Regions from separate parts of the Homo sapiens genome. Here regions 1, 2 and 4 are each linked to region 3. The links come from fine-mapping of genetic effects on gene expression. A gene starts in region 3. Each other region holds a variant in brackets. All regions are shown on one strand. Distances are from middle to middle. Region 1 overlaps AGFG2 (ArfGAP with FG repeats 2). Region 2 overlaps ACTL6B (actin like 6B). Region 3 holds the start of SAP25 (Sin3A associated protein 25). Region 4 holds the start of SPDYE3 (speedy/RINGO cell cycle regulator family member E3).

Region 1 (8,100 bases), 19 kb after region 3:
TCCCAGAACTTTGGGAGGCCAAGGCAGGCGGATCACTTGAGGTCAGGAGATTGAGACCGGCCTAGCCAACATGGTGAAACCCCGTCTCTACTAAAAATACAAAAATTAGCCGGGCATGGTGGCATGCGCCTGTAATCCTGCTACTCAGGAGGCTGAGGCAGGAGAATCGCTTGAATGAGATCACGCCATTGCACTCCAGCCTGGGCAGCAGAGTAAGACTCTGTCTCAAAAAACACACAAACAACAAAACAACAACAAAAACCAAAATGTGACCTATGTGATTTGTCTTTGTTAGAATTTATGGAGATTTTGTTTCCTATAGTTTATTTCTTACTTGTCTATTAGTCATGTGGGAAAGCATATTATAGTCTCCTAGTCCTTTGGCTTATTAAATTCTGATTGTGTCTAATAGTTTTTGCTTCGTGAATCTCATGGGTATGCGGTCAGTTATTTTAAGTACATGATTTTGAGAACCTCTTTGTGAATTTTAACTTTTTTTTTTTTTTTTGAGACAAGAGTCTTACTCTGTCACTCAGGCTGGAGTGCAGTGGCAGGATCTCGGCTCGCTGCAGCCTCTGTCTCCCAGGTTCAAGTGATTCTCCTGCCTCAGTCCCCTGAGTAGCTGGGATTACAGGTGCCTGCCACCATGCCCAGCTAATTTTTGTATTTTGAGTAGAGACGGTGTTTCACCATGTTGGCCAGGCTTATGTCAAACTCCTGACCTCAGGTGATCTGCCCACCTGGGCCTCCCAAAGTGCTGGCATCACAGATGTGAGCCACCACGCCCAGCCAACTTTTATCAATATAAAATGTTTCTTCTTATAGCCCTCCAAAACGATAAAATAAAAACAAAAGCAGCTAATCAGCTCACAGTGGCACAGTGAGAAGGCTGTGGGCAGAGCATGAGTCAAGAAGTCTGGGCTCTGGTCTCAGCTTGGTCGCTCTGTGGCCTGCATGACTAGGGAAATTGCTTAACTGCCTTATCTGTCAAATGGCCAAATTTTAAGGGTTCCTTCCAGCCCTCAAAACTCTATGATCAGAGGCACTTGGGTAGGCTCTGGGGTGGGGATAATAACTTACCAAAGCTGTAACTTTCAGTTAGCATCCGACTGGCTGGCAGTGAGGGTGGAGAAGAGAAGGGTGGGTAGAGGAAGGGAGAAAGAAAGAGTGTATGTCACTGGCTTTTCCCCAGACATCTGAGCCTGACGGCGAGCACTGCAGCTGCCCTCCCATGTGTCCAGGATGTCCAATGGCAGAAGGCACCCAAAGGCTATGAAGACTCAATGTGTAGAGCTTAGGAAGGAGCAGAATGCTTTAAGAAGGCCTGAAGAGTCTCTTGCAATGGCTAAATAACATAGTTTATTTGGTTTTGTTTGTTCGTTCGTTTGTTTTGAGATGGGGTCTCACTCTGTCACCCAGACTGGAGTGCAATGGCACAATAATCACTCACTACAGCCTCAAACTCCTGGGCTCAAGCGATCCTCCCACCTCGGCCTCCCAAAGTGTTAGGATTGCAGGCGTGAGCCATTGTGGCTGGCAGCAACATAGAGTTTACAGGCCTTTGGTCTTAGAGGGATGGATGAGGACTTCTGGAGACTACCTTGACCCTTGACCCTTTGGGACAGCGTACTATGCAGACAAGAGCACCTTAGAGAAAAAGTCACGTCCATTTTCAATTTTTCTAGGACTCAGGTCTTCCATACTTCCTAGTGAAAAGTTTCCTAGTGTATAACCCACACAGCTCCTGCTGCAATCTTAGTCATTTTCCTTTCATGAAAAAGCAGAACAGTAGAGCCCCCTCTCCCTGACAAGAATGTGTCAGACACGCTCATCCTCTCCTGGAGCTGCTTCTCTTTGTGCTTTGCTGCTTTGAGCAGTTCTTTAGGATAGTGAGGATATGAATGGTGATTTATAGACATGAACAAATGGACACGGTTGGAAGAGAAAGGAAGCCAGTGGGGCAGAGTTTACCTGCAGGAGTTGGCTGGGCCTGGAACGAGGCTTGACCAGCTGGAGGGAGGCTTCCAAACACAGAAGAGCTGGGGCCACTGCTAAAGGCATCAAAGTTGGCAAAGCCTCCTTGGGAAGGTGTCTGGCCTGTAGGTGGAAGAAACATAAAGGTTATATAGAAAATTGTCGGGTGTGGTAGCTCACGCCTGTAATTCCAGCACTTTGGGAGGCCGAGGTGGGCAGATCACTTGAGGTCAGAAGTTCAAGACCAGCCTGGTCAACATGGTGAAATCTGTCTCTACTAAAAATATAAAAATTAGCTGGGCGTGGTGGTACATGCCTGTAATCCCAGCTACCTTGGAGGCTGAGGCATGAGAATTGCTTAAACCTGGGAGGTGGAGCTAGCAGTGAGCCGAGATTGTGCCACTCTACTCTAGCCTGGGTGACAGAATGAGACTCTGACTCAAAAAAAAAAAAAAAAAAAAAAAAAAAACCACACACACACAACAGAAAAAGAAAAGAAAATGTATATGCCTATCCATGTAATATAGCTACTAATTCTAAAGGCCAAAGGCCACTCTTATGGGACATCTGCCTTTCCACAGGGTTCTCTTCAGAGGGAAATGGGTGGGGCCTGGGGCCAAGAGCCAGACCCACACAGGGGAACAGGGGCACCCAGGGCCTCCAGGTTCACTCCCTGCCCTCTTCTGTCCTTACTCCATGAGGCATTAACATTTTTGTCAGGGCCTAGTTTGGAGCATGAAAATTTTTTTTCATGGAGGAAGGAGCTTGAATTTTTTTTTTTTTTTTTTTTTTTTTGAGACGGAGTCTCACTCTGTCACCTAGGCTGGAGTCCAGTGATGCAATTGTGATTCACTGCAACCTCCACCTCCTAGGTTCAAGCAATTCTCCTGCCTTAGCCTCCCAAGTAGCTGGGACTACAGGCACATGCCACCACACTTGGCTAATTTTTTTTTTCTTTTTAGTAGAGATGAGGTTTCACCATGTTGGCCAGACTGGTCTTGAACTCCTGACCTCAGGTGATCTGCCCACCTCAGCCTCTCAAATGCTAGGATTACAGGTGTGAGCCACTGTGTCTGGCTTGAAAATTTTTAAAAAGGGAAAACAGATTCTATGCTGCTGAACCCTCTACTGGCTATTGCTGATTTGGGGGAAGAATAATCTTTGGTGAACTGGAACACATGATAATCCCCCTCCTCCCATTTTAACAGAGACAGAAAATAATAAAAAAGGCTATTTCCAGTGTTCTAAAAGGAAGTGCTAGGAGCCCTCAACTATAATGTTTTAGGATCAAACCCCCAAACATAATCCTGGCTGTACTTATTTGACCCCAGTCCTCCCAGCCTCACTGCTTCAGAGTGACCCTCACATTTGTTTGCATGAGAAGATCTAGAGCCATGGTTACCTCCAGGGACTGGATCTCTCATGTTGTAAGCATATACGCTGTAGGGAGGGTCCCATCCCAAAACCCACTTACCCCCAAAGGCAGGGAATGCAGCAAAAGCTGGTGCCATCTGGGGTGCAGCAAAGGGGTCTCCACCGATGTCAGCCAGCAGGTCAGTACTGGCTTTTTTGACAGAGGAGTGGGGAGGTGGCTGAGTGCTCCGGGCCTGGGATGTCCGAGCGTGAGACTGACTGACGGGCTTGGAGGAGAAGGAATGCATACAGCCCTTAGAATCCCAGACATGCCCCAGGCCCTCCTCTGGCTCCCCAGGTTGCCCTCAGATAGGCAGGTAGAGAGAGAAGACAGTGAGTAACTGCCCTCAACCTAGAAGATTCCTGGGCAGGAGCTGCCTTAGCCCCTCTCAGAGCTCATATCATCCTCATCTTCTCAGTACACCTGCTCCAAGAACCACACATTTTACAGCACATGAGCCAAGGTAACCCTGAGATATACAGGAATACTGCCCAATACTGCCCCCAGGGCTGTTACTCCTCAACCTTCCCAGGTATTGGACACCATATTCCAGCCCCTTCTGTGTTTCTTTGATGGAATGCTCAGGTTTGGAGCTGATATTCTGACTTTCCTAAATACCACTTCCTGTTAGGTTCTGACTTCCAAAAGATATGAGGTCCAGAAGTGACAAATACAAGATACAGGTTAACAGCAGAGCCGAGACCCAACTCACAGCTCCTGCACTGTTGTCTGCTAAGTCCGGGGAATCTGATTCAGGAAACTGACACTCCTGTCTCCCAAATCTCAAAAGAAACATGACGAGCAGATCTGAGAGTTACCTGGCTCGAGGTGGAGGCAGCAACTGAGAGAGACGGTGCAGGATCACCCAGAAGTGTCCGAAGGGGCTTCCCTTCTGGGATGGAGCCCTGCACAGGGGTGGAGGCACTGCCTTTGGTATAAGTGGGCCCCTTGACTTGGTCTGGGGGGACATACCTTTGAGAAAGAATAGTTAGGCTGTAAAGAGAGGGATAAAACTTTGGACCACGCTCAGCTGAGATGTTTGGGAAGACACAGGAGTCAAAATCTATGCTCATTTTTCTCTACTGATTCCCTTTTTTGAAGGGAACCGAGCAACTTAGCAAAGTTCTGCCTATCTTGAGCATCCCCTTGAACATCTTTTGGTTTTTTTGAGACAGGGTCTCGCTGTTGCCCAGGGTGGAGTGCAGTGGGGCAATGTTGGCTCAACACAGCCTTAACTACCTAGGCTCAAGTGATTCT[C/T]CTGCCTCAGCCTCCCAAGTAGCTGGGACCACAAACAAGTACATGCTACCATGCCTGGCTAATTTTTTAATTATTTGTAGAGAAGAGGTCTCACTATGTTGCCCAGGGTGGTCTCAACCTCTTGGCCTCAGGTGATCCTCCTGCCTTAGCCTCCAAAGTTCTGGGATTACAGGCATGAGCCACCACACCTGGCAAAGGTCCCCCTCTTTTATTTCCTGGGTGTTTCTTCAGACTCCTTCTTCTCAGCTCCATAGAAAAGCTGCCTGCCGCCTCATCCTCTAGGTGCTCACAATCCACACTTCCATCCTGCCAGCTCCTGCCGGGACAATTCCCTTCCACTACAGTGTATGTGGCCCCTACTCTGTAAGTGTCAGCTTAATCCTGAGGACATCCCTAGGAGGGACTCCACAGTGTGGTCTTATCCACATCAATCTCTTTGTTCTCTGCATTCTCTTCTCTACCTCACAGTTACCTCCCAACATGTACACACCCCAGAGATCCCACAAGAAGTGATACCAGGGGAGAGGAAAGGTAAGGGAGAATGGAGATGCTGTTTCCTTCATCAGGAAGACAAAATATAGTTGTCCCATGGTATCCTCAGGGAACTGGTTCCAGGATCCCCCTGACAATTCCATAATCAGAGGACGGGACACTCAAGTCTCTTATATAATATGGTGAAGTATTTGCATCAAATATGTATATCCTCCAATATACTTTAAATCATCTCTAGGTTACTTATAATACCTAATACAATGTAAATGCCATGCAATAGTTGCTATATTGTATTGCTTTTTATTTGTATTATTATTTTTTTTTTGAGACGGAGTTTCACTCTGTCACCCAGGCTAGAGTACAGTGGCACGATCTCAGCTGACTGCAACCACTGCCTCCCGGGTTCAAGCAGTTCTCTGCCTCAGCCTCCTGAGTAGCTCGGATTACAGGTGCCCATGACCATGCCTGGCTAATTTTTTGTATTTTTAGTAGAGACGGGGTTTCACCATCTTGGCCAGGCTAGTCTTGAACTAGTCCTGACCCTGTGATCCACCCGCCTCGGTCTCCCAAAGTGCTGGGATTACAGGCATGAGCCACCACACCTGGCCTTATTTGTATTATTTTTTATTGTTGTATTGTTATTTTTTGTGTTCCCTACTTTTTTTTTTTTTTTTTTTTTTTTTTGAGACAGTCTCTCTCTCTTTGCCCAGGCTGGAGTACAGTGGCATGATCTCAGCTCACTGCAACCTCCGCCTCCTGGGTTCAAGCAATTTTCCTGCCTCAGCCTCCAGAGTAGCTGGGATTACAAGTGTCCACCCCCACACCCAGCTAATTTTTTTTGTATTTTTAGTAGGGACGGGGTTTCACCATGTTGGCCAGGCTAGTCTCGAACTCCTGACCTCAAGTGGTCTGCCCACCTCAGCCTCCCAAAGTGCTGGGATTATAGGCGTGAGCCACCTTGCCTGGCCTATTTTCCCAAATATTTTTGATGTGAGGTTGATTGGATCCATGGTTGCAGAATCTACAGATACAGAGGGCTGACTGTACATATAAATCATGAAACAAGGCCGGGCACGGTGGCTCACGCCTGTAATCCCAGCACTTTGCGAGGCCAAGGCAGGCAGATCATTTGAGCCCAGGAGTTTCAGACCAGCCTGGGCAACGTGGTGAAACCTCATTTCTACAAAAAATATAAAAATTAAGGCCGGGCGCAGTGGCTCACGCCTGTAATCCCAGCACTTTGGGAGCCAAGGTGGGCGGATCACGAGGTCAGGAGATCGAGACCATCCTGGCTAACACGGTGAAACTCCGTCTCTACTAAAAATACAAAAAATTAGCTGGGTGTGGTGGCGGGCGCCTGTAGTCCCACCTACTCGGGAGGCTGAGACAGGAGAATGGCGTGAACCTGGGAGGTGGAACTTGGAGTGAGCCGAGATCACGCCACTGCACTCCAGCCTGGGTGACAGAGCGAGACTCTGTCTCAAAAAAAAAAAAAAAAAGAAATATATATATATATATATATATATATATATATATATAAATTAGCCAGGCATGGTGGCACACACCTGTAGTCCCAGTTACTGGGGAGGATGAGGTAGGAGGATCACCTGAGCTCCAAGAAGCTGAGACTGCAGTAAGCTGTGACTGTGGCACTGCACTCTAGCCTGGGCAACAGAGTGAGACCTTGTCTCAAAAAAAAAAAAAAATCATAAAATGATGGGTTAAAGGAATAAAACTATAGGATGTGTGCTTCCAGCCATCTCTCCCCATACATAAGATCAGCTGAGCTATAAAAATGAACACCCACAGGCCTACCTCCCGACTCCAATCAGTCTACTATCTCTCCAAAAGAGAGGACATAAAATCTGCAGGGTTAGTGACTGAGAACAAGTTGTCCTTTCATGTAGATTTATTTTAGCCGTAACTGAATGTGAGTGGAACAGAATCGACCCAAGTCTAGTCTTTTGTGAGAAGGCCAAATTCAACTCTAGAAACTGGACTGTCAGATGAAGAATGTCTTGAACACGTTTCCATAGCAACCTCTTTCCTACTCCTTACCATCTCTTCTTCTCATATTTTTCCTGGAGAAACTCCTTCACTTTCTGAGGATCCCTGGAATCTGGTACTAAAGATGTCCGAGCATCAAACAGACCCAACCAAATCTTCCGGCAAACCTAAAAGAATGAAGGTGTCAGAGGAGTGGGAGCAGAAAGCAGGAAATACAAAAAATACCACTTCCTTTTTTTTTTTTTTTTTTTTTTTTTGAGACGGAGTCTCGCTCTGTCGCCGGGCTGGAGTGCAGTGGCACGATCTCAGCTCACTGCAACCTCCACCTCCGGGGTTCAAGCAATTCTCCTGCCTCAGTCTCCCAAGTAGCTGAGACTATAGGCATGCGCCACCACGCCCAGCTAATTTTTGTACTTTTAATAGAGATGAGGTTTCACCATGTTGGCCAGGATGGCCTCGATCTCTTGACCTCGTTATCTGCCCACCTCAGCTACCCAAACTGCTGGGATTACAGGCATGAGCCACCGCGCCCAGCCACCACTTCCTATTTATTCATCAGTAAATACATATTGGCTGGATGTGGTGGCTCACACCTGTAATCTCAGCACTTTGAAAGGCCGAGGTGGGTGGATCACTTGAGTACGGGAGTTCAAGAGCAGTCTGGGCAACACAGCGAAACCCACTCTCTAAAAAAATACAAAAATTAGTGGAGCATGGTGGCATGTGCCTATAGTTCGAGCTACTTGGGAGGCTGAGGTGGGAGGATCGTTTGAGCCCAGGAGGTTGAGGTTGCAGTGAGCCAAGATTGCACCATTAAGCTCCAGCCTGGGTGACAGAGCAAGCAAGAGCTTGTCTCTGATAAATAAATAAATAAATAAATAAATAAACAAATATTGAGCATGGACACAGTGCTAGGATCTGGGTCTACCTACAAACCAGATATGATTCCTGTCCTC
Region 2 (8,100 bases), 78 kb before region 3:
GCTGCCCTTCTCTGTCTCCAAGTCCTTTTTAAATTTTTTTTTTTTGACACAGTCTCACTCCGTCACCCAGGCTGGAGTGCAATGGTGAGATCTCAGCCTCTGCCTCCCGACATCAAAGGAATCTCCTGCCTCAGCCTCCTGAGTATCTGGGATTACAGGCACCCGCCACCACGCCTGGCTAATTTTTTGTATTTTTAGTAGACAGGGGGTTTCGCCTTGTTGGCCAGGCTGGTCTCGAACTCCTGACCTCAGGTGATCCACCCGCCTTGGCCTCCCAAAGTGTTGGGATTACAGGCATGAGGCACCACGCCCAGCCTCCAAGTCCTTTTTTGACCTTTTCACTTATTATTATTATTATTATTATTATTATTATTATTATTATGGTCAACTTTGGTGAGCTGGGGATGTTGGCTCACACCTGTAATCCCAACACTTTGGGAAGCCAAGGCAGGAGGATCACTTGAGCCCAGGAGTTTGAGACCACCCTAGGCAATATGGCAAGACCCGTCTCTTTTATTAAAACAATAAAAATTAAAAATTTTTTGCCGGGTGTGGTGGCTCACGCCTGTAATCCCAGCACTTTGGGAGGCCGAGGCGGGTGGATCACGAGGTCAAGAGATCAAGACCATCCTGGATAACACGGTGAAACCCCATCTCTACTAAAAATACAAAAAATTAGCCAGGCATGGTGGCGGGCACCTGTAGTCCCAGCTACTCGGGAGGCTGAGGCAGGAGAATGGCGTGAACCCGGGAGGCGGAGCTTGCAGTGAGCTGAGATCGCACCACTGCACTCCAGCCTGGGCAACAGAGCGAGACTCTGTCTCAAAAAAAAAAAAAATTTAAAACCTCATTTAAAAAAATGTTCTTACCCACCTCCTTATAAATTCCTCTTTATAAAAGCAACTGTTTTTCTCCTTTTTAGCTAATGTTGGGGGTATTTTCTTCCATATCTCTAATACTACACTTAAATTGCTGCCTGTGGAGTGTTTAGTTTTAGGTATTATCGCTGAATTTTCCACTTTAGAAAATGATCGCTTAGCTCTCTTTTCCTCCCCAGCCTATGCCACACGTATTTCTTATCACCCTCCTTTAAGTACAGTGGGTTTTGTTGTTGTTGTTGTTGTTGTTTGGGGTTTTGTTTGTTGTTTGTTTTTGAGACTTTGCCTCAAAAACAGGGGGTCTGCTCAGTTTGTCACCCAGGTTGGATTGCAGTGGCACAATTCTTCAGCCTTGGTCTCCTGGGCTCAAGTGATCCTCTCATTTCAGTCTCCAGAGTAGCTGGAACTACAGGCATAAGCCACCATGCCCAGCTGATTTTTAAATTTTTTTTAGAGACAGGGTTTCATCATGTTGTCCAGGCTGGTCTTGAATTCCTGGGCTCAAGCAATCTGCCCGCCTCGGCCTCCCAAAAGGCTGGGATTACAGGCGAGATCCACCACACCCAGCCCAGTTGTATTTTAGACTTTAAAAGAAATCAGTATTCAGTATTTACATTCTTTTTAAATTAGAAATAATTTTAAGAGAATCTTTTGCAGAGATGGGGTCTCATCATATTGCCCAGGCTGGCTTCAAACTCCTGTGCTTAAGCGATCCTTCTACTTCAGCTAACAAAGTGCTGGGATTACAGGCATGAGTCACTGTGCTCAGCCCAATATTTACACTCCTATTACTATGTATGCTAATCAGGCCTGAGACAGGCAATACACCATGATCACCTTTCCTTTCTTGTGCAACTTTTTGTTTTCCTAGAACTGGAAAAAAAATGTGTTCAATTTTTTTTTTTTTTTTTTTTTTTTTTTTTTTTTTTTTTTTTTTGAGACGGAGTTTTGCTCTGTCACCAGGCTGGAGTGCAGTGGTGCGATCTCAGCTCACTGCAAGCTCCGCCTCCCGGGTTCAAGTGATTCTCCTGCCTCAGCCTCCTGAGTAGCTGGGACTACAGGTGCGTGCCACCACGCCCAGCTAATTTTTGTATTTTTAGTAGAGACGGGGTTTCACCATGTTGGCCGGGATGGTCTCGATCTCTTGACCTCGTGATCCACCGACCTTGGCCTCCCAAAGTGCTGGGATTACAGGCGTAAGCCACCATCCCAGCCCTGTGTTTGATTATATTTGGTCTGGTTTTCTATCTACTTAACAGTGTGAACCCTAAATCATTCATCAATTGTATCTTTTGTCAAGACGTCAATTCCATTAGATATTTTATCAATTTCTTTTTTTTTTTTTTTTTGAGACATAGTCTTGCTCTGTTGCCCAGGCTGGAGTGCCATGGCGCGATCTCGGCTCACTGCAAGCTCCACCTCCTGGGTTCTCCTGCCTCAGCCTCCCGAGTAGCTGGGACTACAGGTGCCCACCACCACATCCGACTAATTTTTTGTATTTTTTTTTTTTTTTTTGAGATGGAGTCTCACTCTGTTGCCCAGGCTGGAGTGCAGTGGTGCGATCTCGGCTCACTGAAAGCTCCATTTCTCCTGCCTCAGCCTCCCAAGTAGCTGGGACTCACACCATTCTCCTGCCTCGGCCTCCCAAGTAGCTGGGACTATAGGCACCCACCACCACGCCCGGCTAATTTTTTGTATTTTTAGTAGAGGCGGGGTTTCACCGTGTTAGCCAGGATGGTCTCCATCTCCTGACCTCGCGATCCGCCGGCCTCGGCCTCCCAAAGTGCTGGGATTACAGGCGTGAGCCACCACACCTGGCCTCTCATCAATTTCATTTCTTGAAGAAATTTCTTCAGGAGCCCACTGACCTGGTCCAGTTTGCACTAGTAGCCCTCTGCCAGGGGACAGACCTGTCATGCTGGCATCTTCCTTCACCATCATCTTGTAGAATCCTTTTGCCTCTGTCCTGGTTAGAAGTCCTGTTTCCTGTACTTGACTCCTTTTCTTGACTTATTCCTTTGTTTTCATGGAGCAGGTCCTTCAGTAACTGCCTTAGAAAGGTCATGAGAGGCCAGAGACAGTGGCTCACTCCTGTAATCCCAGCACTTTGGGAGGCCTTGAGTCCAGGAGTTTGAGACCAGCCTGGGCAATATACTGATACCTTATCTCTACCAAAAATATAAAAATTAGCTGGCCATGGTGGTGCATGCTTGTAGTACCAGCTACTCGGAAGGCTGAGGCAAGAGAATTGCTTGTACCCAGGAGGCAGAGATTGCAGTCAGCCTAGATCATGCCACTGAACTCCAGCCTGGGCGACAGAGTGAGACTCCATTTAAAAAAATAATTAATTAAATAATAATCTAAAAAAAAACTTTTTTTTTTTTTTGAGATGAAGTGTCACTCTTGTCCCCCAGGCTGGAGTGCAATGGCGTGATCTTGGCTCACTGCAACCTCCGCTTCCCGGGTTCAAGGATTCTCCTGCCTCAGCATCCCAAGTAGCTGGGATTACAGGCACCTCCCATCACACCTGGCTAATTTTTGTATTTTTAGTAGAGACGGGGTTTCACCATGTTGGCCAGGCTGGTCTCAAACTCCTGACCTCAGGTGATCTGCCCGCCTTGGCCTCCCAAAGCGCTGGGATTACAGGCATGAGCCACCGCGCCCAGCATCTAAAAAAAAAATTTAAAATAAGGTCATGGGAAGTATATTTTTTGAGACTTTTGTGTGTCTCACCTTGAGTTGATAGCTTAGCTAGGTATCCCATGCCAGGTTAGAAATCATTATTCTTCAGAATCTTGAAGGCACTTTTCCATTGTCCTTCTTCCAGCATATATCGTTGCCATTTAGAAGGATGAAACCATCTGATTTCTGATCCTCTGATGTAATGTTTTTCTTTCTGAAAGTTTATAGAATTTTTACTTTATCCTCAGTGTGGTGTATTTTCATTCATGGCTCTAGGCACTTAGTATGTCTCTTCATTCTGAAAACATATGTCTTTCAATTCAGTGAAAAAGAATTATTTATTTAATTATTTATTTCTCTCCATTTTCTCTCTTGGGATTTTCTGTTATTGGATTTTGTTGCCCCCTGAATTGGTCCCCTAATTTAATTCCCTTTTCTCTTATATTTTCCATCTCTTTACCTTTTTCCTTTGGTTTCCAAGATATTCCCTCCACTTTATGTTCCAATCCTTCTATTGAGTTTTTCATTTCTGTTCATGTAGTTTTAATTCCCACAAGCTCCTTACTTTAAATTTTTTTTTTAATGAGACAGCATCTCACTATGTTGTCCAGGCTAGTTTCGAACTCCTGGGTTCAAGCAATCCTCCTGCCTCGGCCTCCCAAAGTGCTGGGATTATAGGCGTAAGCCACCCTGTCTGGCCTGTGCAAATGTTTTAAATGCATGTGTGTGTGACTGTGAGTGTGAATATATGTGTATGTGTGTGTGTGAGTTTGTGTGTGAATGTGAGTATATATGTGTTTGACCGTGTGTTTGTGAGTGTGTTTGCATGTGTGACCGTGAGTGTATGTATAGTGTGAATGCATGTGTGTGTTTATGTGTGTCTGTGAATGTGAGTGTATGTGTGTGTGTTTGAGTGTATGTGTGTGTGTGTGCAAGTGAATGCATGTGTGTATGACCGTGAGTGTATGTGTGAGTGTTTAGGTTGTGTATGTGTGTGCAAGTGTTTGGATGTGTGTGTGTGACCGTGAGTGTATGTGTGAGTGAGTGGGTTGCGTGTGCGTGGATGTGGGTCTGTGCCTCTCCCTTCCTGA[A/G]TCCTCCCCCTCTGCACTTTCTCCACAGTGGAACACACGGGCCAAGCGGGAGAAGCTGACAGAGCTGATGTTCGAGCAGTACAACATTCCTGCCTTCTTCTTATGCAAGACGGCTGTGCTCACCGCGTATCCTCTGGACTGAGCTGCTCTGACTGGGTGGAGGGCTGGGGTGGGGCCTGTGCTGAGCTCAGCTGTGATGAGCTGGAGGGTCAGGCCTGGTTCTCTGAAGATCAGTGTCCCAATGGGCAGACACCTCCCTCTGCCCCACTAGTGCAGAAGGCCCAGTGGACTGAGCACCTCCGACTCTGGGGTGGCCAGATCAGCGGCCCCTTTCGGTTCCCCGGATCAGGCTGAGCAGACAGTGAGCTGGGCCCGGGAGAGAGTAGGGGCTGGAACTGGACAGAGGAGGGAGACGTGTAGAACACTGCGGCAGTCCCTTCCCAAGAACTCCTTCAACACTGACTGTTTTTAGGATCTGCCTTGCATTGAACCCTGTGCTATGCACTGGGGTGATAGCGACCCTAATTTCAGGGAATCTGTAGGACACAACCAAAAATAAAGGGGCTGGCCAGGCGCGGTGGCTCACGCCTGTAATCCCAGCATTTTGGGAGGCCAAGGCGGGCAGATCACTTGAGGTCAGGAGTTAGAGACCAGTCCGGCCAACATGGCAAAAGCCCGTGTCTACTAAAAATGGAAAAATTAGCCAGGCATAGTGGTGGGCACCTGTAGTCCCAGCTACTTGGGAGGCTGAGGCAGGAGAATCTCTTGAACCCAGGAGGCAGAGGTTGCAGTGAGCTATTGCATTCCAGCCTGGGCGACAAAACGAAACTCAGTTTCAAAAAAAAAAAAATAACTAAAGAAGTAACTGGGGTCGCCGGGTGTGGTGGCTCATGCCTGTAATCCCGGCACTTTGGGAGGCCGAGGCGGGCAGATCACGAGGTCAGGAGATCGAGACCATCCTGGCTAACACGGTGAAATCCCATCTCTACTAAAAATACGAAAAATTGGCCGGGCGTGGTGGCAGGCACCTGTAGTCCCAGCTACTCGGGAGGCTGAGGCAGGAGAATGGCATGAACCCGGGAGGCGGAGCTTGCAGTGAGCTGAGATTGCGCCACTGCACTCCAGCCTGGGAGACAGCAAGACTCCATCTCAAAAAAAAAAAAAAAGAAGTAACTGGGGTCTCAGAGCCTTTCTCCAGGAGATGAGTCATCACCAGGGGGAGAGATTTGCAGACTGGGGATGGGCTGGACCCCGGTAGAGCAGAGAGTGACCAGACAAGATCTGGGCCCAGGCCCCTCACTTGCTGCTGCTGTCTCTTTGACTTACCCATCCGATGCCAGCTTTGCAAACGGGCGGTCCACTGGCCTCGTGCTGGACAGTGGAGCCACCCACACCACGGCCATTCCAGTACATGACGGCTACGTTCTGCAGCAAGGTGGGGCTTCGGCAGGGGGTGGGGGTGCTCCAGGAGGACCAGGTCCTGACAGTGCCTTCCTTCTAGGCATCGTCAAGTCCCCTCTGGCAGGGGACTTCATCTCCATGCAGTGCCGGGAGCTGTTCCAGGAGATGGCCATTGACATCATCCCACCTTACATGATCGCAGCCAAGGTGGGGCCTCTGGGGACATGGAGCTGCCACTAGAGTCCTGGCCACTCGCCCCATGGCCGTCAACCCTCTGACACATGAGATATCAGAGCAGAGAGCAGCAGGCTCCCCAGTGGGTCCTGGCTCCAGTTCCTCCTTTTATAATCGAGGCATCCGAAATCCAGACAGGCTGAGGGATATGCTGAGGTCATGAAACCAGCTGGCAGACAGCAGGATGTGTGAGGGCCAGTGTGGTGGGTTCTAGGGTCCAATATAGACCCAGGTTCAAGTTCTGCCTCTGCCGTGCAAGAGCTGCAGGACCGGTCAGGCATGGTGGCTCACACCTGTAATCCCAGCACTTCGGGAGGCTGAGGCAGGCAGATCGCTTTGAGCTCACTTCGAGACCAGCCTGGGCAACATGGTGAAGCCACGTCTCTACTAAAACTGCAAGAACTAGCCAAGCATGGTGGTGCATGCCTGTAGTCCCAGCTACTTGGGAGGCTGAGACTGGAGAATCACCTGAACCCCGGAGGCAGAGGTTGCAGTGAGCCGAGATCGCGCCACTGCACTCCAGCCTGGGCGACCGAGTGAGACTCCATCTGAAAAAAAAAAAAAAAAAGAGCTGTGTGACCAACAGCATGATATCAAAGCTCCCTGGGCCTCAGGTTTGTCTTATGTAAAGTGGAACGGCAGTAGGCAGTAGCCAGGGTGCTGTGAGTATGAAGTGACACTGTGTGCTTAGCTCCATTCCGTGCCCTCACATGGATCATGACCCCCTAGGAGGCCATTCCCTTGAGGTTCTGTCACTGCTGTATTCCTGGTGTTCTCCAGATCAGCTGCACCCACCGCATGAAAGGCACACATGGAGAGAGAGGCATGCCCCATTCTCTCTCCTCTCCATCAGGGAAGGGTGAGAAACCCCTCTTGCAGGCAGCACAGCAGAGCCTGCAGCGCCAGGTAGCTGCAGAGCTGGGAACAGTGCCAGGAAGGTGGGGGTGGGGGTCAGGTGGGCTAGGAAAGGGTGTTCCTACACTGTGCCCCCACAGGAGCCTGTCCGGGAGGGTGCCCCCCCAAACTGGAAGAAGAAGGAGAAGCTACCCCAGGTCTCCAAGTCCTGGCATAACTACATGTGTAATGTGAGCCTCTGGAGAGGGCCACCTGAAACCCCCCTCCCCTGCCATGAATCGGGGGCGGGACAGAGGCCCCGCATGGGAGGGGGAGCAGGGAGGGGGAGCGGGGCAGGGGGTGCTGCTCACGGGGAAGGCAGGCCCTCACCACCTCCGCTGGGATTTCAGGAGGTGATCCAGGACTTCCAGGCCTCCGTGCTGCAGGTCTCAGACTCCCCCTACGATGAACAGTGAGTGTGGCTCAGGGCTTTGGGGTGGGAGAGAGGGCAGAACCGGCACTCTTGGGGTGGGCTGGGGGGCTCTGGTGCTGCCCACGCACTGATCCTTCTTGAGCACCCCAGGCAGAGTCCTGCTCCCTTCTGGGTAGGGTGGCTGCACAAATGCCCACAGTGCACTACGAGATGCCCAATGGCTACAATACAGACTACGGCGCCGAGCGACTCCGCATCCCTGAGGGCCTGTTTGATCCCTCGAACGTCAAGGTTTGGCTGTGTGGCGAGGACTGGGGTGGGTGCTGGCTGCAGTCCCTGGATCCTGGGGCGTGGGGGAGGCTGGGAAGGATTGCAGGGGTCTGGGGGGAAGGGGGAGAGAGCCCACAGCCCCAGTCACCTCTCTCTGCAGGGCCTGTCGGGGAACACCATGTTGGGTGTGGGCCACGTGGTGACCACCAGCATCGGCATGTGTGACATTGATATTCGCCCGGTGAGGCCAGGCCGGAGCTGAGGCTCGGCAAAGGGG
Region 3 (8,093 bases):
AGGGGCCGCCGCCGTGTCCACTCAAGCCATGCACAAGTAGGTTTCCTGCCAGCATCCCCTCCCCACTCCTCTTCCTATGACCATCATCCCTCTAATTCCCTTCTGTCTCTCCTCAGCGGCTCGCCTAAGTCCAGTGCCTCCCAAGCAGGGGCTGCAGCGGGGCAGGGAGCCCCCGCCCCTGCCCCTGCCTCCCAAGAGCCCCTTCCCATAGCTGGACCAGGTGGGACAGGGATTTTGGGAGGAGGATGGGGCCTGTGTTGGTGAGGGCTGGTTGGGAGAGAGGGACACAGAGGGGATGCCTGTCTCACCTGCCCCTGTCGCTGTGTCCCTGGTTCCGGCCCCAGCGACAGCACCTGCTCCACGGCCACTTGGCTCCATTCAGAGACCAAACAGCTTCCTCTTCCGTTCCTCCTCTCAGAGTGGCTCAGGTGGGTGTCCTGCCCTCCCCAGTGCTGACCCAGTGCTTGCCAGCACCAACGGCTACATCACCCTTCTGCCCTGGGAGCCCTCTGGGTCTGTTGTACCTTTTGTACCTTTGCGTTGAAAATCCCACAAGCAAGCCGGGTGTGGTGGCTCACACCTGTAATCGCAGCACTTTAGGAGGCCCAGGTGGGAGGATCGCTTGAGCCCAGGAATTCAAGACCAGCCTGGGCAACATAGCGAGACCCCATCTCCATGAAATAAAAAAAAATCCCACAAGCAGAGAGGCAGGAGGTGTAGGTGCCAGGCCACTGGGACCCAGCTACAGAGTCAGTGGTGAGCAGTGGAGGCAGCCCCATGCCCCCCTTTTTCTCCTAGGCCCTTCCTCACCAGACTCTGTCCTGAGACCTCGGCGGTACCCCCAGGTTCCAGATGAGAAGGACTTAATGACTCAGCTGCGCCAGGTGAGCAGAGGCGGGAGCTGCGTGGGCAGGGGCCTGGGCCGGGCACCTCCTTGTGTTGCTGTCCTTGGGACCAGCCTCCCTCCACATCCTCTGTGCCCACTCTGGCACCTCCCCTGAGGACAGGAAGGGACAGGCACAAGTTCCCTGCTAGCCCTGAGCCCCCCACTCTCCCTGCCTCCCAGACGCCTCTCCTTCCCTGACCCCTGCTCTATGTGGTCTACACTGCCAGGTCCTTGAGTCCCGGCTGCAGCGGCCCCTGCCTGAGGACCTGGCCGAGGCTCTGGCCAGTGGGGTCATCCTGTGCCAGCTGGCCAACCAGCTACGGCCGCGCTCCGTGCCCTTCATCCATGTGCCCTCCCCTGCTGTGGTCAGTTGGGGCTGGGGAAGAGGTGGGGGATGGGCCGGGGCGCCTGTGGCCTCTCCCTTACCACATTTTCTTCTTTCACCCACCCCAGCCAAAACTCAGTGCCCTCAAGGCTCGGAAGAATGTGGAGAGTTTTCTAGAAGCCTGTCGAAAAATGGGGGTGCCTGAGGTATGGGGGCTGCTTTCTAAAGAGTGGTGGCATGCCGGACTCAGCCGAGCATGTGGCATGGATGGTGGGCTTCCATTTGCAGCGGATGTCTGCTCTCAGATGAAGGCACAGGCTGCCCCTGCCCTGCCCAGCATGCCCCCTGCCCTGCATGCCCCCTGCCCTGCATGTCACCTGTCCTACACATCCCCTGCCCTGCAGGCCCCATCTTGTCCTGCATGTCACCTGTCCTGCACATGCCCTGCCCTGCACTCCTCCTGCACTGCACTCCCCCTGCCCAGCACGTCAGCATGTGGGCGTGGTTCTGGCCCCAGCACGTGAGGGCAGGGGTGGGAGGGACTGTCCTGCTGCTGCTGCTGACGTCTGTCCCTTGTCCTTGTCCACCTGCTCTCCTCTCCCCCAGGCTGACCTGTGCTCGCCCTCGGATCTCCTCCAGGGCACTGCCCGGGGGCTGCGGACCGCGCTGGAGGCCGTGAAGCGGGTGGGGGGCAAGGCCCTACCGCCCCTCTGGCCCCCCTCTGGTCTGGGCGGCTTCGTCGTCTTCTACGTGGTCCTCATGCTGCTGCTCTATGTCACCTACACTCGGCTCCTGGGTTCCTAGGCCCCAAAATCGGCCCTCCCTCACCCCTTTCCCTTCCTCTCTATTTATAAGGTCCCTGCTCCACCCGACCCCACCTGCGGTGCCTTCAGCCCCAACCAAAGACACTAGTGCACCCCCTTCACAGACACTGACCTCAGAGGCCCCACTCTGGTGCCCCCAGACCCTGGGCCCCCAGCCTCTGGCCTCCCTCCAGTAGCCCCACGAGTCCCCACCTCTCAGTGCTGACGGTGCCTTCATGTCCCCGCCGGCCCTGCCCCTGCCCTCTGTACCCCGTGAGGGGTGGCAGGAGCTGGAGTCTCCCCCTTCCTCCTGTGCCCTCCCCTTCCCCCCCCAACAGCTGCTATGGGGGGGCTAAATTATCTCTATTTTGTAGAGAGGATCTATATTTGTAGGGGTTCGGGGCCCAGGCCGGGTCCCTATCTCTGTGTATAAACTGTACAGACCGTGGCCGCCCTGCCTGTGTGTGTGTGTGTGCGCGCGCGCGCGCGTCTGCTCCGCGTGTTGGTGGCTGTGGCCATGGCTCTGTGCCCACCAGCATCTCCCTCCTGAGATGCCGGCCTCTCATGCTCCCGGAGCGTCCGCCAACCCCCCGTGTCACCTCCCTTCTGTTATCGCTGACAGCTTTCTTGCGTCTCATTTGTCGCCGAGCCCCGAGCGCACGGTGATGCTCGGGTCTGCCCCCGACCCCCTGCCACAGGCCGGAAGCCGCAGGGGGCACCGTGGGGAAGCTAACCCGGCCCCTTCCCCCAGGAGTCACTGTGCCAGCCCCACCACATCCTGGAAGAGGAGGGGGCCCCGGGAAGGGGCCTCCCCTACATCGCTGCTGTCGTCCACGCCCTGCTGGACCGGCCTTAGGGGTGAAGGTGGGGGCACAGGGCCCACCCCGCCCGGGACCCCGGGAGCAGAAGACGCGCCTGGGCTCCGCGCTCTCAGAGAAGCACGTGGTGAGGGTGGCCTGGGCCTGGGCACCCTTGGCCTGCCGGCCTGGCTGCCTCTGGGGTCGAGGGTCTGGGTGGAAGGACCGCGGGTGTCGCAGGTGTCGTGTCAGCCGCAATAAACAGAAGCCAGAAGCCCTCTGGGTGGCCCTCAGGTGTAACTGTGTCTGAGAGCACGTGCGTCGCGGGGTTGTTGGGGGGGCCTCTGTTTCCGGAATTCACCGCCCAGTCGCCAGGGGGCGCCCGCGGGAGCCCGGCGGGGGCACGCGCCACGTGGCCGGGAGACGCACAGGGCGCCAGCGTCGCCGCGAGGCCTCTGGGGTGGGTTCGCCAGGAGGGCACGTTCGCGCCGCGCCGCGGAGGGAGGCTGAGAGGGCCGGGCCGGGCGGCGGGGACACGGCGGTACCGTCCTGCGCTCGGGAACGCGGAATGTTGCCCTGGTCGCCGCCGCGGTGGGGCGCGGGCCCGGAGGAGGCGCCCGAGGGACCAGGCCTTCCGGCGGGCAAGGACCAGGGCGAGCCCTGGAGCGCCGGAGCGGACGCCCCCAGGGAGCTGGGGACACCCCCATGGGACAGGTGAGGGGCTCGGACGGAGCCGTGGGGGGACAGCGACTGGGGGCCTCCATGCCTTCACCACGCGCTCTACGGAGGCTTCTCCATTGTCCCTGCTGGAGATTGGGTCCCTCGGTCTCCCTTGCACCAGGCACCCTTGGGCTCCAGGGGAGGGTGCGTGGGGGCGGTGTGGCTGCAGCCTCAGTCCCTGCCCCTCCAGCCCACAGCCCCCATCCCGTAGCCCTTCCTGGATCTGGAGAGAGCAGCTGCTGCTGCCCCACCACCTGCCAGGCCCGGCCACTGAGCAGCCCCCCGGAGCCCCAGGTAGGACAGGCCCTGCTGCCTCTACTACCCCTAAGAGCCTCTCACTGACTGTGAGCCTGTTATAATCCCCAAGCGTCCCCCCAGATCCCCGTTCCCCCCAGGTGGCCTGGGAGGTGGCCCCCTCGAGGATGACTCCACTAGCGCCCTGGGACCCCAAGTATGAAGCCAAAGCAGGACCTCGGCCGGTGTGGGTGAGTTGGGGGCAAACCTGTGGGACTGGCTGGGGTGCTCAGGGAGCTGTGCGGTGGCCTGAGGCTCCAGTGCTCTGTCCTCCTCACCCTAGGGGGCCAACTGTAGCTCAGGAGCCTCGTTCTCAGGCCGGACGCTGTGTCACCCCTCATTCTGGCCGCTGTATGAAGCAGCCTCGGGCAGGGGTCTCAGGCCCGTGGCCCCTGCCACAGGGCACTGGAATGGACAGCAGGCGCCCCCAGATGCAGGTACCTCCCTTGGTCCCCCGGGGGCGCAAGGCTGCCCCAACTCCTCTGGGAACCAGTGCCCAGGGGTGGGAGCCCGCAGCCCGCCACCCTAGTGGTGTTTCCTCCTAGGGTTCCCGGTGGTGTGCTGTGAAGATGTCTTCCTCTCGGACCCTCTGCTGCCCCGGGGGCAGCGTGTTCCCCTGTACCTGTCCAAGGCCCCCCAGCAGGTGAGAGCTCTTTCCCCTCCCTGTCCTTACCCCAGCCTCCAGGCTTGCCTGGCAGGAAACACATTCCATTCTCTCTCCTCAGATGATGGGCTCCCTGAAACTGCTGCCGCCGCCCCCCATCATGTCTGCCAGGGTGCTCCCCCGCCCATCACCCTCCCGGGGCCCCTCCACTGCCTGGCTCAGCGGGCCGGAGCTGATCGCTCTCACTGGCCTGCTGCAGATGAGCCAGGGGGAGCCTAGGCCCAGCTCCTCCGCGGTTGGCCCCCCAGACCATACCTCTGACCCACCCAGCCCCTGTGGTAGCCCCAGCAGTTCTCAGGGTGCTGACCTCTCTCTCCCACAGACCCCAGACACCCATTGTCCATAGCCTTCTCAGGGCAGAGTGGGCTGGTTGTGTTGACAATAAAACAGTGTTGGTTTGCAAAACAGGCTCCGTGTGGCTGGGAGCAGAGTAAGTCATAGAGGCAGGAATGGGGTCTCTTTCTGTCTCACTGCAGATCACCCCCTGCTGTGTTAGGCGGAGGGCGAGGGTATCCATGACCTAAGGCATTTCTGGGCTGACTGGGCAGAGCCCCTTTAATGAGTGGGTGGGTGGTCTGCATGGCAGTGCAGGGCTGAATGTATAGGAAGCAGGCGGGGGAGTAAGTAGGGGCACCTCACTTTTAGGGGACACTAGCCCCACACCTCTTGTGCTGGGGCTCCAGGAGTTCAGTTCTGGGCTGGGTGGGGTAGTTGTCTGGCTCAGAGGAGACACAAAGAATGCACTGCAGGTGTGTGGGGGAGGGTGCCGGTCCATGTAAATGTCACCACTGGCAGAAAGGTGGCCCTGCCGCAGCCTACCTGAGACTCTAGAGATTCTTGCACGAACTCTGTAGAGAAACAGGATCAGGGTTTCAGCTGAGAAAGCCCAGAAGTGTGTAGTCTCGGTGGTTTGGGCGGGGATAGGTTCTAGAATTTTCTCCCATAAAATAGCCCAACTTCTTGGAGAACCTTCTACTCAAGACTTAGGTGCCACAGCTGGAAGGGACACAGGGGGCAGGACCCCAGCTTGTTGCCCTGCAGGTCACTTGTCCGAGGTGGCATCTGGGCCTTAAAGCCCCTCACACGGTGGGGAGTTAGGAGGCAGGGCGGGGGCGTTACAATGCCATTCCCTCCAGTCCCTCCCTCAACCACCCCCCCATCAGTCAGCAGGAGAGAGCTGCCTGGGTCTCAGGTCTCCTCACCGCATAGCTATGTGGGCGGAGCGTGTGGGCCCTGGGGACGTCACCAAGTGCCCCCAGAGAAAGGACCAGGTCCAGATCGACGTAGCTGAGGCAGCTCGTCAGGGGCTCTGGCCTGGCGGTGCCGGTTCCGAGGCTCTCTGGGGCCGATAACTTGGTGCACACTTCACTCCCTAGCCAGCTCTGAGGGGGGCAGGAGCAGCGCTGAGTCCCTACCCATCCCCAGCCAGCCCCCACATCGCGATGGGCACTCCTGGGCCTGTGTCCAGGCTCCTGAACCCAGACTTGTAGGAATGGGCTCATAGTCACTCCCTGCTCCCTTGGTTATGTAGCCCCCACCCAGCCCCTTAGGGTAGAAGGCTGCTGTCCCCAGCCTCGCCAAGGTCTTAAGGGCTGCTTGCTCGATCCCCTCTCCCAGACACCCTGGACGGCTCAGGCCACTTGACTGGTCCGCAGAAGCTGGGGTCTCAGGGATGGGGAACAGGGAGTCTGAAGGTGCTCATAGGAGGGTCCCTGAGCACCTGGGCCTCGTCATTGTGCCTGGAGAACTCTTTTTTTTTTTTTTTTTTTTTTTTTTTTTTTTTTTTTTTGAGACAGAGTCTAGCTCTGTTACCTAGGAGTGCAGTGGTTGATCTTGGCTCACTGCAACCTCCGCTTCCCCGGTTCAAGCGATTCTCCTGCCTCAGTCTCCTGAGTAGCTGGGATTACAGGCATGTGCCACCACGCCCGGCTAATTTTTGTATTTTTAGTAGAGATGGGGTTTCACCATGTTGGCCAGGCTGGTCTCGAACTCCTGACCTCAGGTGATACGCCCGCGTTGGCCTCCCAAACTAATGGGATTATAGGCGTGAGCCACCGGGCCGGGCCTGTGCCCGGAGAACTCTAAACCTGCCCCTTTAATGTTTGAACTTTCGGCGACCTGGGGGAGGGGCGAGCCACGGAGAAACCACAGCCAGAAGCCCCCGAGGCCCCCGGAAGCCCGGGGCTCGGGCCTCACCGGCATCACCGCGCTCCTCGAGCAGGGTGTTGTATCACGCCTGCTGCTCCGCCTCGCCTGCCGCCGCCACGCGCAGGCTGCTGTCGCGGGTGTAGAGGACGATCAGGTGGTGCTGGCGCGCATCTGCGCACTTGCTGGTGGTGCACGCACCCGCCAGGCTCAGGCTGCGCTGGAGCCGCGCTCGGCACGCGCGAAACTTCTGCTCGCTCTCGGAACACTCGGGACGCGGCGGGTCTGCGCGCAGGTGGCCGCAGAACCGCACGTCGGCAGGGCAGGCCCAGGGCAGCGGCTGGCTGAGGGGCACGGCGGCCATTCCCGGCTCTCCCCGGGGCCGCCGCCTGCGGGCTTCATTCAGGGGCGAAGGCAATAAAGTGGCTGCAGAAGAGGCAGAGACGGCTGGGTCTCGTGTCTTGAGCACGGGGAGAGGCCAGCAGGGGTGGGGGTGAGGTGGCGAACTCGGCGGGCCGGGAGCAGCGGCCGGGCAGGCTGCCACCCGTCTTGATGCCCAGCGTCTCTCCCGGGCTCCCGACTGGAAGTTTGGGGCAAGGACTCTGCGCACAGCGAGTGTCCCGGTGACTGTTGCCCCTGGCCTGGGCTCCCCACTACCTCCCTCCCTCCGCCGACCGCTCCGGAACCCCCACCCCACGAGACTAATCCTCACGTCGCCCAGGAACTGGAGTTTGAGTAGGGAAGTCCAAGAGAGGCGGCCTCGACCCCAAGACTGAGCCTTTATAGGGGCAGAGAGCGTGGGGGCGTCTCTACCGATCAGCTGACTGCGGTCCGGACACGTCGTCGGGGCAACCGAGAAAGCCTCGGTGTGAGGCCAGTGATCGGACTTGTGGCAGCGGTGGTGGCGCTGGCGATTAGAGGGCTTTGGAACGGGGCCTCCATGCACCCTGCTGGCTCCTGCCACGCCCCGCTCGGCCTGTAGGTGTCCTTCCTGTGTGTACCCCCTTCCCATCCAGGAGTGGTTTTGTGCCCTTCCAAGTAACCAAAGGAGCCACCGCCACTGAGCACTGCGCTGGATTATTTCTGAGCTGGAGATTGAGTTTCTTGAAAGTTTGGGGTGATAGGAGGTGACTTGGGCTAAGTAAGCTCAGGGGGTAGTCCCTGTGCACAGACCATACCCGCTGGAACCCAGTCAAGTGGCCACTGAAGGAGACCTCGGAGGAAGAGGCCATCTCTCAGGAAGACCCCTTCGGGCTGCCCCATTGCTCTGGGCCCCTCCTTGCCACCACTGCCCAAAAATACTACCCCGGGACCACCTGAAGGCTCTGACCATGGACGTGTGGACTTCCTCATGGAGGTACCCTTTGCTTCTTGAAAAAATTGCGATTGGGCTGGGGACTGGACATTTTTGCACTCAGTTCTGATCCAAGGACCACTGACCCCCTCCAAGGGGATGGGG
Region 4 (8,100 bases), 260 kb after region 3:
CTTGCCTCAGCCTCCCAACGTGCTGGGATCTCAGGCGGGAGCCACAGCGCCTGGCCCAAAACCAAGCTTTCTTATCCCAAGCACCGACCTTTATCAAGTCTACCTAATCCTCTGTTGACTCCTAAGTGTCCCTCATGAGTGATCACTTCAGAGTCCTCCCGCATGGAGAGCTCACCCACTGGGGCATATTTTTCCCATTGGAAAAGTGTGGTTATTGGAAGTTTCCTCTTTTTAGAAAGAACAGGATTGGAGGTGCTCTCTGGGGTGTCCTCCTACCAAGCAGCCTGTTGAAGGCCTCGTAGTACTCAGGGAGCACGAGCGACACTCGCCGTCGCTTCGCCTTCATCTTGAGGCCACACAGCGTCTCTGCCACCCAGGTCTCCTCAGGCTCAGGGGCGAGCTCCTTCTCTGGCTCATCATCAGATTCATCCAAACACTCCCTCTTCCTTTTGCAGCCAAGGGACCTACGTGGGGGGCTGGGATCTACCCCAGGGGCTGAGTAAAGAAACCAGGCCACCGTGTAATGCTTCTGCAACTGATCACGTTAGACCCCGACCCCAAACCCCAAACCATTCTCCATCCTCCCCAGCCTCTCAGACTGCTGGCTTCTCCAAGCCACCTTTCTGACTTTCTCCTCTGCTCAACCCCATGTGCCACTCCTTCCCCTCCCCATTCTTCCCTCTCTCTGTCCTCAGAACACTGCGTCATATCCTTCCCTGGTCCCTGGCTCTCTGAGGCCCTCTTTTTTTTTTTTGTTTCGAGACAGAATCTTGCTTTGTCACCCAGGCTGGAGTGTAGTGGTGCAATCTCAGCTGACTGCAACATCTATCTCCCGGATTCCAGTTATTCTCCTGCCTCAGCCTCTCAGGTAGCTGGGATTACAGGTGCCTGCCATAATGCCCAGCTCAATTTTGTACTTTTAGTAGAGACGGGGGTTTCACCATGTTGGCCAGGCTGGTCTCAAACTCCTGGCCTCACGTGATCCGCCTGCCTTGGCTTCCCAAAGTGCTGGGATTACAGGTGTGAGCCACTGCACCCAGCCTGAATTTCTCCATTCTTCCCACACACCCTCCCCAGGTTCTCCTTCCTGACCTCTGACCCTTCTTTTTTTTCTTCTTCTTTTTTTTTTTTTTTTTTTGAGACAGCGTCTCACTCTCTCACCCAGACTGGAGTGCAGTAGCACGATCTCGGCTCACTGCACCCTCTTCCTCCCAGGCTCAAGCGATTCTCCTGTCTCAGCCTCCCGAGTAGCTGGAACTACAGGCATGAGCTACTGTGCCCAGCCTTGGTTTTTCTTTTGACGCAGAGTTTTGCTCTGTCACCCAGGCTGGAGTGCAGTGGTGCAGTCATAGCTCACTGCAGCCTCAAAGTCCTGAGTTCAAGCAATCCTCTTGCCTCAGCCTCCCAACGTGCTGGGATCTCAGGCGGGAGCCACAGCGCCTGGCCCAAAACCAAGCTTTCTTATCCCAAGCACCGACCTTTATCAAGTCTACCTAATCCTCTGTTGTCTCCTAAGTGTCCCTCATGAGTGATCACTTCAGAGTCCTCCCGCATGGAGAGCTCACCCACTGGGGCATATTTTTCCCATTGGAAAAGTGTGGTTATTGGAAGTTTCCTCTTTTTAGAAAGAACAGGATTGGAGGTGCTCTCTGGGGTGTCCTCCTACCAAGCAGCCTGTTGAAGGCCTCGTAGTACTCAGGGAGCACGAGCGACACTCGCCGTCGCTTCGCCTTCATCTTGAGGCCACACAGCGTCTCCGCCACCCAGGTCTCCTCAGGCTCAGGGGCGAGCTCCTTCTCTGGCTCATCATCAGATTCATCCAAACACTCCCTCTTCCTTTTGCAGCCAAGGGACCTACGTGGGGGGCTGGGATCTACCCCAGGGGCTGAGTAAAGAAACCAGGCCACCGTGTAATGCTTCTGCAACTGATCACGTTAGACCCCGACCCCAAACCCCAAACCACTCTCCATCCTCCCCAGCCTCTCAGACTGCTGGCTTCTCCAAGCCACCTTTCTGACTTTCTCCTCTGCTCAACCCCATGTGCCACTCCTTCCCCTCCCCATTCTTCCCTCTCTCTGTCCTCAGAACACTGCGTCATATCGTTCCCTGGTCCCTGGCTCTCTGAGGCCCTCTTTTTTTTTTCTGTTTCGAGACAGAATCTTGCTTTGTCACCCAGGCTGGAGTGTAGTGGTGCAATCTCAGCTGACTGCAACATCTATCTCCCGGATTCCAGTTATTCTCCTGCCTCAGCCTCTCAGGTAGCTGGGATTACAGGTGCCTGCCATAATGCCCAGCTCAATTTTGTACTTTTAGTAGAGACGGGGGTTTCACCATGTTGGCCAGGCTGGTCTCAAACTCCTGGCCTCACGTGATCCACCTGCCTTGGCTTCCCAAAGTGCTGGGATTACAGGTGTGAGCCACTGCACCCAGCCTGAATTTCTCCATTCTTCCCACACACCCTCCCCAGGTTCTCCTTCCTGACCTCTGACCCTTCTTTTTTTTCTTCTTTTTTTTTTTTTTTTTTGAGACAGCGTCTCACTCTCTCACCCAGACTGGAGTGCAGTAGCACGATCTCGGCTCACTGCACCCTCTTCCTCCCAGGCTCAAGCGATTCTCCTGTCTCAGCCTCCCGAGTAGCTGGAACTACAGGCATGAGCTACTGTGCCCAGCCTTGGTTTTTCTTTTGACGCAGAGTTTTGCTCTGTCACTCAGGCTGGAGTGCAGTGGTGCAGTCATAGCTCACTGCAGCCTCGAAGTCCTGAGTTCAAGCAATCCTCTTGCCTCAGCCTCCCAACGTGCTGGGATCTCAGGCGGGAGCCACAGCGCCTGGCCCAAAACCAAGCTTTCTTATCCCAAGCACCGACCTTTATCAAGTCTACCTAATCCTCTGTTGTCTCCTAAGTGTCCCTCATGAGTGATCACTTCAGAGTCCTCCCGCATGGAGAGCTCACCCACTGGGGCATATTTTTCCCATTGGAAAAGTGTGGTTATTGGAAGTTTCCTCTTTTTAGAAAGAACAGGATTGGAGGTGCTCTCTGGGGTGTCCTCCTACCAAGCAGCCTGTTGAAGGCCTCGTAGTACTCAGGGAGCACGAGCGACACTCGCCGTCGCTTCGCCTTCATCTTGAGGCCACACAGCGTCTCCGCCACCCAGGTCTCCTCAGGCTCAGGGGCGAGCTCCTTCTCTGGCTCATCATCAGATTCATCCAAACACTCCCTCTTCCTTTTGCAGCCAAGGGACCTACGTGGGGGGCTGGGATCTACCCCAGGGGCTGAGTAAAGAAACCAGGCCACCGTGTAATGCTTCTGCAACTGATCACGTTAGACCCCGACCCCAAACCCCAAACCATTCTCCATCCTCCCCAGCCTCTCAGACTGCTGGCTTCTCCAAGCCACCTTTCTGACTTTCTCCTCTGCTCAACCCCATGTGCCACTCCTTCCCCTCCCCATTCTTCCCTCTCTCTGTCCTCAGAACACTGCGTCATATCGTTCCCTGGTCCCTGGCTCTCTGAGGCCCTCTTTTTTTTTTTTTGTTTCGAGACAGAATCTTGCTTTGTCACCCAGGCTGGAGTGTAGTGGTACAATCTCAGCTCACTGCAACATCCATCTCCCGGATTCCAGTTATTCTCCTGCCTCAGCCTCTCAGGTAGCTGGGATTACAGGTGCCTGCCATAATGCCCAGCTCAATTTTGTACTTTTAGTAGAGACGGGGTTTCGCCATGTTGGCCAGGCTGGTCTCAAACTCTTGGCCTCACGTGATCCGCCTGCCTTGGCTTCCCAAAGTGCTGGGATTACAGGTGTGAGCCACTGCACCCAGCCTGAATTTCTCCATTCTTCCCACACACCCTCCCCAGGTTCTCCTTCCTGACCTCTGACCCTTCTTTTTTTTCTTCTTCTTTTTTTTTTTTTTTTTTTGAGACAGCGTCTCACTCTCTCACCCAGACTGGAGTGCAGTAGCACGATCTCGGCTCACTGCACCCTCTTCCTCCCAGGCTCAAGCGATTCTCCTGTCTCAGCCTCCCGAGTAGCTGGGATTATAGGCACACACCACTACCGCCTGGCTAATTTTTGTACTTTTAGTAGAGATGGGGTTTCACCATGTTGGCCAGGCTGGTCTTGAACTGCTGACCTCAGGTGATCTGCCCGCCTCGGCCTCCCAAAGTGTTGGTGTTACAGGGGTGAGCTACCGCACCTGGCCCCCTTCCTTCGTCTTAGTCAATCCTATGCCACCTCTTCTTCCTCCAGTCCCCTCACCTGATGGTCCCGACACTTCATCATCCACCACCTCCTGGAGGGGGTACCCTGAGGTGCTCCGCTGGGGGCTCTGCTCTTCCTGGGGCTGCGGTTGATGGCTCGTCATGATCTTTCCCAAAATCTGTCCAATCTCACCGAAGCTAGTCTCTGTTCTGT[C/T]CTTGGTCTTCTTCTGGACACTGCTGGGATCCAGAAGAGTGTGTTATCAATTCTCGAGGCTGGGAGAAGTCAGGAGTGGAGAACAGCTCTGAGAAGTTACTGTTGTTCACCTGAACTGCCAGGCGCCGACAGAGTCCGGTCCTTCCAATCAGGAAGGTCGGAATCTCTGATGTCATAGGTCATTCCAACCTGGCAACCAGTTTGAACAAAAACACATGTAACTGCCAGGCTGATCTCTTGTCCTGGAGATCCTGGGTGAATGGTATCTCCTGCCACTGTCCCAACCTCAGACCACTGTCCAAAAGCATCTTCAGGGTCTCCGCATCCCTCTGTTCCCTGTCCCAGCAGAGGCTGTGTCCTCTCCACTCAAAGCTTGAAGCGTGTTGGGGTCTCCTCTTCTCTGTACATGCCCGTTTCAGAGTCCAGTCTGGTGGGAGAGGGATCAGGATGGGAAAGAAAACTAGGGTAAGCAGAAACGATGAAACCTTATAAGAGTGAGAGTATCATGTACAAGAGATCCCAGGAACATTGACTTGATGAAAAAGTCACATCAGAGCACTCAATTTGGCAGAGCTTTTCTGCCGAATGTTTACTGATATTCACTGTCCGAGATTCTGTACTGGGTGTAACGTGTCCTCTGCCCTAAGGCATCTTTGAGTCCAAGAGATATTTTGAGGACTGGAAATCATCGGAAACTGCCCATGAGCTCACACATATTTCCAATGGTGTCCCCAGTTTCAGGGAGTCCACGGATCACCTAAAGCCAGCCCCTCCAGTTTGGCTAAGAAACTCTATATATCAAGTTTTGTATCATATGTATTGCTCTTAACTCAGAAATTCCACCATTTATAGCAGTGGTTTATTTATTTATACTATTGAAGGAAATGGTTTATTTATGAATCTATATTATGGATATTCTATAAGATACTGGGTGTACAAAAAGACTAAGTCGAAAAATCTCAGCTGTGCACAGTGGCTCATGCTTGCAATCCCATCTCTTTGGGTGGCCAAGGGAGGAAGACTGCCTGAGGCCAGCAGTTCAAGACCAGTGTAGGCAACATAGCAAGACCCCATCTCAAACAAAACAAAACAAAACAGAACAAAATTAGCCAGGTGTCGTGGCTGGCACCTGTGTTCCAACAACTTGAGAGACTGAGGTGGCAGGAGGATTGCTTGAGCCTAGGAGTTAGGGGCTGCAGTGAGCTGTGATCGTGACACCGCACTCCAGTCTGGGCAACACAGCAAGACCTTGTGTCAAAAAAATTTTTTTAATTAAATATAAAAGAGTTTCATGACATTCAGAGACCATCCAAAGAACCTGTGGGTTCCGGCCAGGCACAGTGGCTCACGCCTGTAATCCCAGCGCTTTGGGAGGCCATAGCAGGTGGATCGCTTGAGGTCAGGAGTTTAAGAGCAGCCTGGCCAACATGGTGAAACCCCATCTCTTCTAAAAATACAAAAAATTAGTCAGGCATGGTGGTGGGTGCCTGTAATCCCAGCCACTCAGGAGGCGGGGGCAGCAGAATGGCTTAAACTTGGGAGGCGGAGGTTGCAGTGAGCCAAGGTCGCACCATTGCACTCCAGCCTGGGCAACAAGAGCAAAACTACATCTCAAAAAAAAAAAAAAAACAAACAAAAAGAACCTGTGGATGAGTTCCCACATGGCTTCCTAACGGGCTGCGGCTCTCCTAGGAGTCTCTCGCTCATGGGAAAGGCACAAACTGAATGTGGAAGGAAATCCCATTGCTGTGGAAGTCCCATTGTTAGGAAGCTCTGCTTTTCTGGAGTTCAAATTTGCATTCATGACGCTTTAAACCGTCAGAGCTGGGTGTGTCCTCCTACAACAAATCACTTTACTCTCTCTCTCTCCTAGTTAACAGGCTTTCAAATATTAGAACATCCATGTTCTGACCTCATTAAAATTGCTCTTTTGTGGAATGAAAAGCTCTGATTTAACCCGTCTTTAAGCCTGGTATGCATATTCCTCTCTGTTCCGGCCACCTTGTCTAGACACACTACACTGAGGCAGTGCCCATCTTAGATGATGTTGATACATTGTCAAAAAATGGGCAAACCAGGCGCGGTGGCTCACACTTGTAATCCCAGCACTTTTGGAAGCCGATGCCGACAGATAACCAGAGGTGAGGAGGTTGAGATCAGCCTGGCCAACATGGTGAAACCTGTCTGTTTTTCTGTAAAAATACAGAAACAATGAGCTGGGTGTGGGAGTGCACTTCTGTAATTCCAGCTACTTGCGGGGCTGAGGCAGGAGAATCACTTGAACCGGGATGGTGGAGGTTCCAGTGAGCCGAGATCACGACACTACACTCCAGCCTGGGCGACAGAGTGAGACTCCGACTCAAAAAAAAAAAAAAAGTGCCAGACAGCCCAGGTTTGGTCTGATATGTTCAGAAAAAAGCAAAACAGTCACCTCTCACCTTTTCTTTTCCTGCAATGATGCCGTTTAATACAACAATGGCTGTAGGTCTGCGGCAGAAATATCATTCAAGTGAAACAGAAGGGCTTTCCTGGCTGGACACAGTGGTCACTCCTGCAATCCCAACACTTTGGTTGGCTAAGGTGGGAGGATTTCTTGCGGCCAGGAGTTCGAGGCTGCAGTGAGCTGTGATCTACCACTGCATTCCAGGCTGGGCATCAGAGTGAGGCCTGTCTCTAAAAAAAACCCTTCACTCCCCAAAAAAAGGGATTTTCAAATACCAGCCTTTCAGCATGAGGATCACATGGAGGAACATTAAGACACAGATGCTGGGACCCAGCCCTATTGATTGTAATTAAAAAACTGAGGTGAGGCCTGATTTAGCTCCATCATTGGAATCCATTCAGATTTGAAATTCTCTGAGTTGGACAGTGCAAGAGAGATCCTAAAGAAAGCAAAGTCACCGTGGACTGAAATGAGCTGACAAGGTTTTCTGAGCGTGGTGAAATATGATCTGGGCCTTGCTTGGGAGGGCTGTGGCCAGGCCTTGAGTCCGTGGCTCAGTGGGACCTTCTGAAACAGCCTCCAATCCGTGCCCCCACTTCATTTGCTAGTGGATGACCCCCTCCAGTGGCTTTGGTGCTGATGGGAATAAGTCGACCTGCAGCGGAAGTTCAGCCCAAGTTTTAGCCCAGCAGCTTCTCCACACCTGTCCGTGGTCTGGTCATGCCGCCGTCTCTGCGGTTCTCTGCGGAGTCGTGGTTTCTGTACCTTGAAGAGAACTTCCCCTCTGGGACCCAGAAACCCAGTGAATCCTCAGGAAAAAAGGGAATGAAATTACTGAAGACAACTCTGTGGCGGGGAGATGGAAAAGAGGCTCTCTCTCTTTTTTTTTCCTAATATTTTGAGACAGAGTTTCGCTCTTGTCACCCAGGCTGCAGTGCAGTGGCTCCATCTCGGCTCACTGCAACCTCTGCCTCCCAGGTTCAAGTGATTCTCCTGCCTCAGCCTCCCGAGTAGCTGAGATTACAGGCACCCACCACCACTCCCGGCTAATTTTTGTATTTTAGGGTTTCGTCATGTTTGCCAGGCTGATCTTGAACACCTGACTTCAAATGATCCACCTGCCTCTGCCTGTCAAAGTGCTGGGAATACAGGCATAAGACACTGCACCTGGCCTGTTTTTGTTTTTTAGAGACAAGGTCTCTGTTGCCTTGGCTGGGGTGCAGTGGTACAATCAGCTCTCTGTTGCCT

Evidence for each region.
Region 1: its variant is fine-mapped to the expression of SAP25 in whole blood (TOPMed, PIP 0.97).
Region 2: its variant is fine-mapped to the expression of SAP25 in whole blood (TOPMed, PIP above 0.99).
Region 4: its variant is fine-mapped to the expression of SAP25 in whole blood (TOPMed, PIP above 0.99).

Annotation. Positions count from the first base shown.
Region 1 is chr7:100,549,607-100,557,706 of GRCh38, reverse strand. AGFG2 (ArfGAP with FG repeats 2) reads right to left here. Exons shown (of 12, transcript NM_006076.5): 3 at 7,196-7,311; 4 at 4,207-4,360; 5 at 3,449-3,614; 6 at 1,972-2,097. Among named protein-coding and RNA genes, the nearest start is that of AGFG2, 14 kb to the right of the region's middle. The variant C/T (reference allele first, on the strand shown) is at 4,646.
Region 2 is chr7:100,646,715-100,654,814 of GRCh38, reverse strand. ACTL6B (actin like 6B) reads left to right here. Exons shown (of 14, transcript NM_016188.5): 5 at 4,680-4,777; 6 at 5,992-6,086; 7 at 6,153-6,259; 8 at 7,282-7,371; 9 at 7,531-7,592; 10 at 7,730-7,844; 11 at 7,984-8,064. Among named protein-coding and RNA genes, the nearest start is that of ACTL6B, 5.7 kb to the left of the region's middle. RefSeq lists enhancers at 4,401-4,945, 4,946-5,492. The variant A/G (reference allele first, on the strand shown) is at 4,652.
Region 3 is chr7:100,569,029-100,577,121 of GRCh38, reverse strand. SAP25 (Sin3A associated protein 25) reads left to right here and starts at 3,222. Exons shown (of 6, transcript NM_001348680.2): 1 at 3,222-3,525; 2 at 3,722-3,825; 3 at 3,910-4,016; 4 at 4,109-4,262; 5 at 4,371-4,468; 6 at 4,551-4,894. The coding sequence starts at 3,380. The coding sequence ends at 4,835. It overlaps LRCH4 (leucine rich repeats and calponin homology domain containing 4), which reads left to right. Exons shown (of 18, transcript NM_002319.5): 12 at 1-36; 13 at 117-220; 14 at 345-428; 15 at 799-884; 16 at 1,114-1,251; 17 at 1,340-1,417; 18 at 1,818-3,111. The coding sequence ends at 2,015. It also overlaps the pseudogene IRS3P. RefSeq lists enhancers at 1,250-1,803, 1,804-2,358, 5,290-5,960, 7,303-7,974 and a silencer at 6,844-7,043.
Region 4 is chr7:100,304,145-100,312,244 of GRCh38, reverse strand. It overlaps SPDYE3 (speedy/RINGO cell cycle regulator family member E3), which reads right to left and starts at 4,543. Exons shown (of 11, transcript NM_001004351.5): 1 at 4,254-4,543; 2 at 3,053-3,271; 3 at 1,667-1,885; 4 at 277-495. The coding sequence starts at 4,359. The variant C/T (reference allele first, on the strand shown) is at 4,410.